Linked DNA regions of Homo sapiens. The protein of the gene in region 2 interacts with the protein of the main gene of each other region in a biochemical or structural test. Each region holds a gene or a part of one and is shown on either strand. Other genes may lie near its edges.

What was found.
Region 1: the proteins of CTF1 (region 2) and SORT1 interact in a biophysical measurement, tested with the Homo sapiens proteins (one study listed by IntAct).

The regions. Positions count from the first base shown.
Region 1 is NC_000001.11:109,310,613-109,314,431, reverse strand, and holds part of SORT1 (sortilin isoform 1 preproprotein), read left to right. Parts: intron 1-47; coding exon 48-171; intron 172-374; coding exon 375-389; 3' UTR 390-3,819.
Region 2 is NC_000016.10:30,901,742-30,904,277, reverse strand, and holds the end of CTF1 (cardiotrophin-1), read right to left. Parts: intron 2,201-2,536; coding exon 1,739-2,200; 3' UTR 731-1,738; downstream 1-730. UniProt on the Homo sapiens protein: Induces cardiac myocyte hypertrophy in vitro. Binds to and activates the ILST/gp130 receptor.

The DNA.
Region 1 (3,819 bases), on a different chromosome or scaffold from region 2:
CACCCCTGCTGTGTACCACCGAGTGTTAAGGAGGTTTCTGTTCACAGGTTCCTGGTGCATCGATACTCTGTGCTGCAGCAGCATGCAGAGGCCAATGGTGTGGATGGTGTGGATGCTTTGGACACAGCCTCCCACACTAATAAAAGTGGTTATCATGATGACTCAGATGAGGTGAGGCTATTTCTTCTTGAATGGTAGTACCCCCCCCCCCAAAAAATACAAGAAAATAAAGTCTGTCTTCTATTCATGATCAAGATATGCCAGGGCCAAGGCGACTTAATGACCATAAGATTTGGCAAGCCCAGAAACTAGGTGATTGCTTTTGAAATAGGAGTGTTGTGGTCTGTCGGTAATATGGTGCATGTCTTTTTCAGGACCTCTTGGAATAGCTCTTCAGAGGAGCTGGACCCAGCATGGATGGTGGAACCACAGTACCTCTTACACTCCCTGTGGCTCCAACTTCAGGAAATAAATTTCCCATTGCGAGGGACCCAGCTCTGTTTCTGCTGCTTCCATCAAAGCCAAAAGGACCTACACTAAAGAAATGCAGGGTGGGGGTGGGGAACCCTGAGCACTTTTTTACAATTGGCTCTGAGAAAAAGGGAGACATTTTAAATTCTTTAACTTCTTATTTCTCGTCCTGTCTCTTTGCAAAGTATGGGCTTTTTTGTTTTTGTTTTTTAAGGGAAACGAAATGGAATTCGAAGGGACCTTTTCACTAACCCCACTTCTGTGTGTTCTGCATGGCGCCTGCCCCAGGGCATCTGCCAACTCCAGTATCAGCTCTCACAGTGTACTTGGTACCATCCCTGGGCTCTGCTGGCGAGACGAAACAGCTGTAGAGATGAAAACAGGCTGCAGAGGCTGGCACAGCCTGGCCGGCTTTTCTCCATCTGGGGACAGTCCTACTCCAAGAACACTGCACACCAGCTCCTCACACAGATCCCACTTACTCTTTTTTTTTTTTTCAGAGACCACAGACCACAGTGATTTTTCTTTTCCCTTGTTTAATTAGGCAATACCCTTGTTAATTGCCCTTTGGCAACTAACTTAACCATGTGCTTCCCACACAGTACATCAGGAAAACTTACAGGGCAATATTTTTAACTTGGGGCAGGAAGAAGGGAGCAGCAGAGAATTGACTAGATATAGCACCTATTAAAAGAGAACTCTTGCTTCTTCTGAGATTTTTCAAGCTGTGCTTTGTGTGTGTGCCAGTAGACTTACGCAAGGACAGGGTACAAACTTAGCTGGAAGTCTGCCCAGGCTGAATGATCTCTTCCCTAGAGTTGATTGTCGGGTACACAGTGTGAACCCCCGAAGACGGAACCTCACAGTCTTCCATGTTCCCTTCTTAACTGTCGTGTGGCTCGTTGCTAAATCATGACAATGGCTGCCTATCTGCTGCTTCTTAGGTTGCTGTTGTACATGGAACCAGGACTAGAGATTTTTTCAGATTTATAGACTTAAAAAATTAGAATTTTATTACCAGGCTTTCCTTCTCACCCCTTTTTTCTGACTTTGCCAAGTAATTTGTTGACACGAAAATTTTGGAGGAACCAATTGAAAACACACTTCCAGTCTAGATGATGCTTTGTGTGATACATTAAGTTCTTATTTTGGATTAAAAGAAGTTTTCCATTTGATACCTCTCTAAATTAAATAAATTATAGAATGTAGTTGGGTGGATTTTGGGGTGGCCATATAGTAATGGAAAGCTGCAATAATTAGTTTTAATACAGCTTGAATATTTGCTATATAGAAATATAGTATGGAAAGTTTTTGGTCTTAATGTAGCTACTGTGCGGGTCACAGTTTCTCCCAATGATTATGACTGGGACATTCTTTGGTAGATACCATTTGCTACTAGTTTATTTTGTGGCTAGAAAGTCAGTTTTGTGTGTTTTTTTTTTTTTTTATTTGAAGTGCCAAATTAACTTTAGTCAGAATGTGAGCAGATGGCTAAGTTCTCTCCTCCCCAGAATGGATTAACAGCTGCGTGGAAAGTGGGGGAGAGAGTGGATGGAGACTTTTAGAGATGTTAAAACTGCAGTAGAATGAAATGAGTCAGGGAGCTTCAGTTAGAAAATAAAGTTGAGGCAGTTTTTGTGAAGATAATATGGTTAGGGCTGGAGTGCACTAGTCTTTTTGCTTATTCATTTTGCATGGTTTTAAAATTAAAAATAATTCCGAAGATACACCAGCTCACAAATGAAAACGTCAGCCTCTGCCCCACCCTCCCTCCTGCCCAAAGTGAATTTGGTACTCAGAAAAGAACTGTTTATACCACTCACCTTTCTCCCAGCATGTACTCACTGTGGGCAGATGCACCAATACATGGTAATCCTCTTACTCATTTTAAGACGTAGGAAACTCAATATTCTTCTCTAACCATATACGATAGGGCTCTTCGCTTTTAATGATATCTGGGATTTCTGTGGAACTTGGCAAATTTTCAGAGCACCTTCACTCACATAATGTCATTTGAACCTCACAATGTTCTTGGGATGGAGTCAGTTGTTCAGGGTCCCCGTGTGTGTGATAAGCAGTGCTGGCTGGCTGTCTTCAGAACTCTTGGAAATCTTTACACATGCGAGTGCTAACCACTTTGAGCAAGGCTGCCTTCTTGTAGATGACTTGCTGTTCTTTATGACAGGGATCAGTGGCATTTGTTTCCTAGCAGTATTTAGCACCTTTTTGCCACCTTGGTGAACAGAAAATTGTATTTTCCTGTCTTTCATGGCTGAAAACAAAAGTAATGGGAATTTTAAATACGTTTGCAGAAACTGCCCCTCCCCTCATTGAGGGTCACTGCTCAAGAGTGCAGGAGTGGACTCTCCACTGATGGGTCTCCCTCCCCATCCTGGTTTCCACCCCGGGCTGGCTAGCTCTGTTGGTTTGAAGACTGACAGCCAGCCTGGCTCATTCTCATTATTGGCTAGTTAGCTTTCTTTATCAACCTGCTCACTCACAAATGTGTGCCCTCAGCCAGAGAGTAAGAAAGCCCAAATCTGTTACAGCTTCTAAAAAAATAGATTTCTAATTTGTCCTACTCATGTTAGGAGCATTATCTTTGAAGGTAAAACATAGTGTATCATTGTGTAAACTCCCAGGCTTGATGTAGCAGAAGAGATCATTTCTGGAGGCTTCAGCAATGGAATTTAGCATTATAAGAGAGATTGGACAAACCAGTCCAAAGTGGTCCGAGTTCTTAAATCCAGGTAGGGAACTCACTCTTCTTTCTTCTCTGGACCTAATTGGGCATTGGGCTTTAGTGAGACCACAGACCAGGCCCGTCTCTCCTGTAGGCTTTTAATTCAATGGCAACTCTATTTCAAAGAATAAAAGCCTTTGGAGAGTTGCGGCAGTTCTGGGGGCGGGCTCAGGAGAGTCCATAGATCAGCCGTAACTGGAACGTAGAATCTACGTCTGCCTCTGAATGGACTTCCCACCTCCTCTCTCTTGCTCTGATGCTTGCCTCTGGGCCTCTCCATGCCCAAGGTGGTCTTTCATCCTTGACAGGCTGGTAATGTGCTGGCCACCTCCAGCTCCTGCATCGAGTCTGTAAACCAGAGCTGGTTCTCATGGCCTTCGTCACGATACCAGGATACGGAGGGGAGCCCAGGGCCATCCATACCCACCCCAGGGTAACGGGGCTGGCCTGGCATTAGTCATTATTTAGTTTCCAGGCCAACCATCCAGATAGAGATTCCCTCTTTCCTTTGAGCAGTGCTCTCAAGAGCTCCGTGCCTGTCCACAATGACCTAGAGTGCATCCTGCTCATTGTCAGTGTAGCCCCTCGCCCCTATATTCATCCAG
Region 2 (2,536 bases):
TGGGCTAGAAAAGGAGATAAACCTCATCTAGCAGATGGGGCTTGGGTGCCATGTATGGGAATATTTCCTGGGAGCCAGGCCTCAATTTCCTTATTTCAGGGCCTTCCGGCCCAGGTCCTCTGGCCTGCGTTCTAGGTCTGGGTCAACCTCCATGGATGCCATTCCATGGGTTACCCATCCAGTGGTACTGGGTGTCCACTTCCTGGTTGGAAAGATGCACCTCTCCAAAGAGGCTTCACCTGTCACTCTACAGGGAGAGGACAGTTGGTCCCCTTCCTAGGCTCTCCCTGAGACCTTCCCTTTTTTGTAATTTTGGGACGGTTGGGGCTGCCTTCCTGTCTCTGTCTGCCTCATTCGCTGTATGAAGAGCCCGCCTTTCTAAGCGGATAGGCTTCCTTCTTCCTGCTGAAGTTCATTGGCTCCCCTCCTTGGCCTGTCTCTCTGGGGCTACTGTTCCACTTCCTGTCCTCAGGGGCTCCACTTCCTGATCCATGGAAGCCCAATTCTTGAAGAACTAAGGACTGCATCACATCTGTTTCCTGTTAGGACACATCCACTTCCTGTTCTGGGCTGGCAGAGGGCACCACTGGCCAGGGGCTGTCAGCCTCCTATTTATACTGCTGGGCTTCTTGGGCATGTCTGGGGGACTAGGCTGCATCCCAAGGGTCCTTTTCTCCCTAAAGCTGTCTCCCCATTTTCAACAACTATATATACAAGTAACTTTAGTTTCTTTTTTATTTTTAAACATTTTATTTACAAAAAATTAATTTATTTTCAGAAATAAAACTCTTTTAAGGTGTTGCTTGTTTTGTCTCCACAGATCTGCTGGGAGGCAGTGGAGGTGTGCAGGGACAGGGCAGAGGGGCTGAAGGAAAGGAGGACATCAAAGGGACAGGGCTGAGGCCCAAAGGGATGGGGTGTGGCAGACTGGGGATGTAGGTGGAGTGAGCCTGAGGAAGGTGGCTGAGATGCAGAGTAGCCTTCCCCCCATAGGACCAGCAGGCACGCCCCTGGCCAGGGAAGCACAGAGAGACAGCCAGATGGGGACAAGGAGAGAAGGTGTCACCTCCTTGAGATAAGGCTGAGATGTACACATGTGCTCACACAGGGCCACGAGAAGGCAGGAAGTGGGGATGGAAAAAACAGAGACACCCCAAGAGCTGGGTAAAGGGGGAGGCCAAAGGGAACTGAGGCAGGCCCAAGGAAGGAGGGAGAGCAAGAAAATGGTAGACTCAGACGGAGTTACCATGCAGACGAGGAGGGTCCAAGAGTTAAGAGAACGGGGCAGGCAAAGCAAAGAGAGGCTGGGAAAGTGGCTCACGCCTGCAATCCCAGCACTTAGGGAGGCTGAAGCGGGAGGATCGCTTGAGCCCCGGAGTTCAAGACCAGCCTGGGCAACATGGCGAAACCTCGTCTCTACAAAAAATTAAATAAAAAATTAGCCGGCTGTGGTGGCGCGTGCCTGTAGTCCCAGCTGCTGGGGAAGCTGAGGCGGAAGGATGGCTTGAGCCCAGGAGGTTGAGGCTGCAGTGCTGGGATCGCGCCACTGCACCCCAGCCTGGGCGACAGAGACCCTGCCCGTCCCCTCCCCTCTCCCCCACAAAAAGCAAAGAAGGCCGAGGCAATGGAGACAGCTAAGAGCAGACAGACAGACACCGACAGCGGCAGAGAAAGACAAAGAAGCGGAAGGAGAGACGGAACCCAGCGGGAGGAGGCGGGGCGAGCTGCCCCGCGGCGCTCAGGCCGAGCCCCCGGGCAGCAGCTGGCCCAGGTCGCCCTCGGTGCGGCTCAGCCACTCGCGGTAGAGGCCGCAAACGCGGAGCCCCAGCACCTTGGCGGGGAAGACCCCGGTGGCGGAGGCGGCTGAGGCGGTGGCGGCGGGGGGCTCGGCCCGGGGCCCGCGGTTGGCGGCGCCCAGCGCGGCCAGCAAGGCCTCCACGGCGGCGCCCAGGGCCCGGGCCTGGCGCGCCGCGTCCTCCAGGCGGCGCAGCAGGCGCGGCGCGCGCGGGTTCAGCTCGGCCTGGCGGCGACACACTGCGTCCAGCAGCGGGGGCAGCGCGGCCAGCGCCGCCGCGTCCAGCCGCAGCCGCTCGTGCACTGGCAGCCCCGCGTGGCTCGGAGCCGGGGCGCTCAGGCCGGCCACCGGCAGCCGCGGCGGCGAGAAGCTGGGCAGCCCGAAGGGGTCTCCCTGGAGCTGCACCTGCGGAGACACGGCCGGCGGGTCAGCGGGGCCCCGGAGCACGGGCAGGGGGCTGTTAACTGGGCTCTCCAACCCGCTCTCTGGGGGTGTCAGTTTCCTCATCTTGCAGATGATAATCCCTCCTAACAGAGCTGCTCTGTTTAAGGCAAAACAAAGTGGCATGCGCTTGACACCAATGCCTGTTTCTTCCTCCCTAAACTGGACCCAGACTGGGCCAGTTTAGGTCAGCACTTTGGGAGGCCAAGGTGAGATAATCACTTGAGCCCAGGGGTTCGAGACCAGCCTAGGCAACACAGCAAGACCACAGCTCTAAAAAAAAAAAAAAAAAAAAAAATA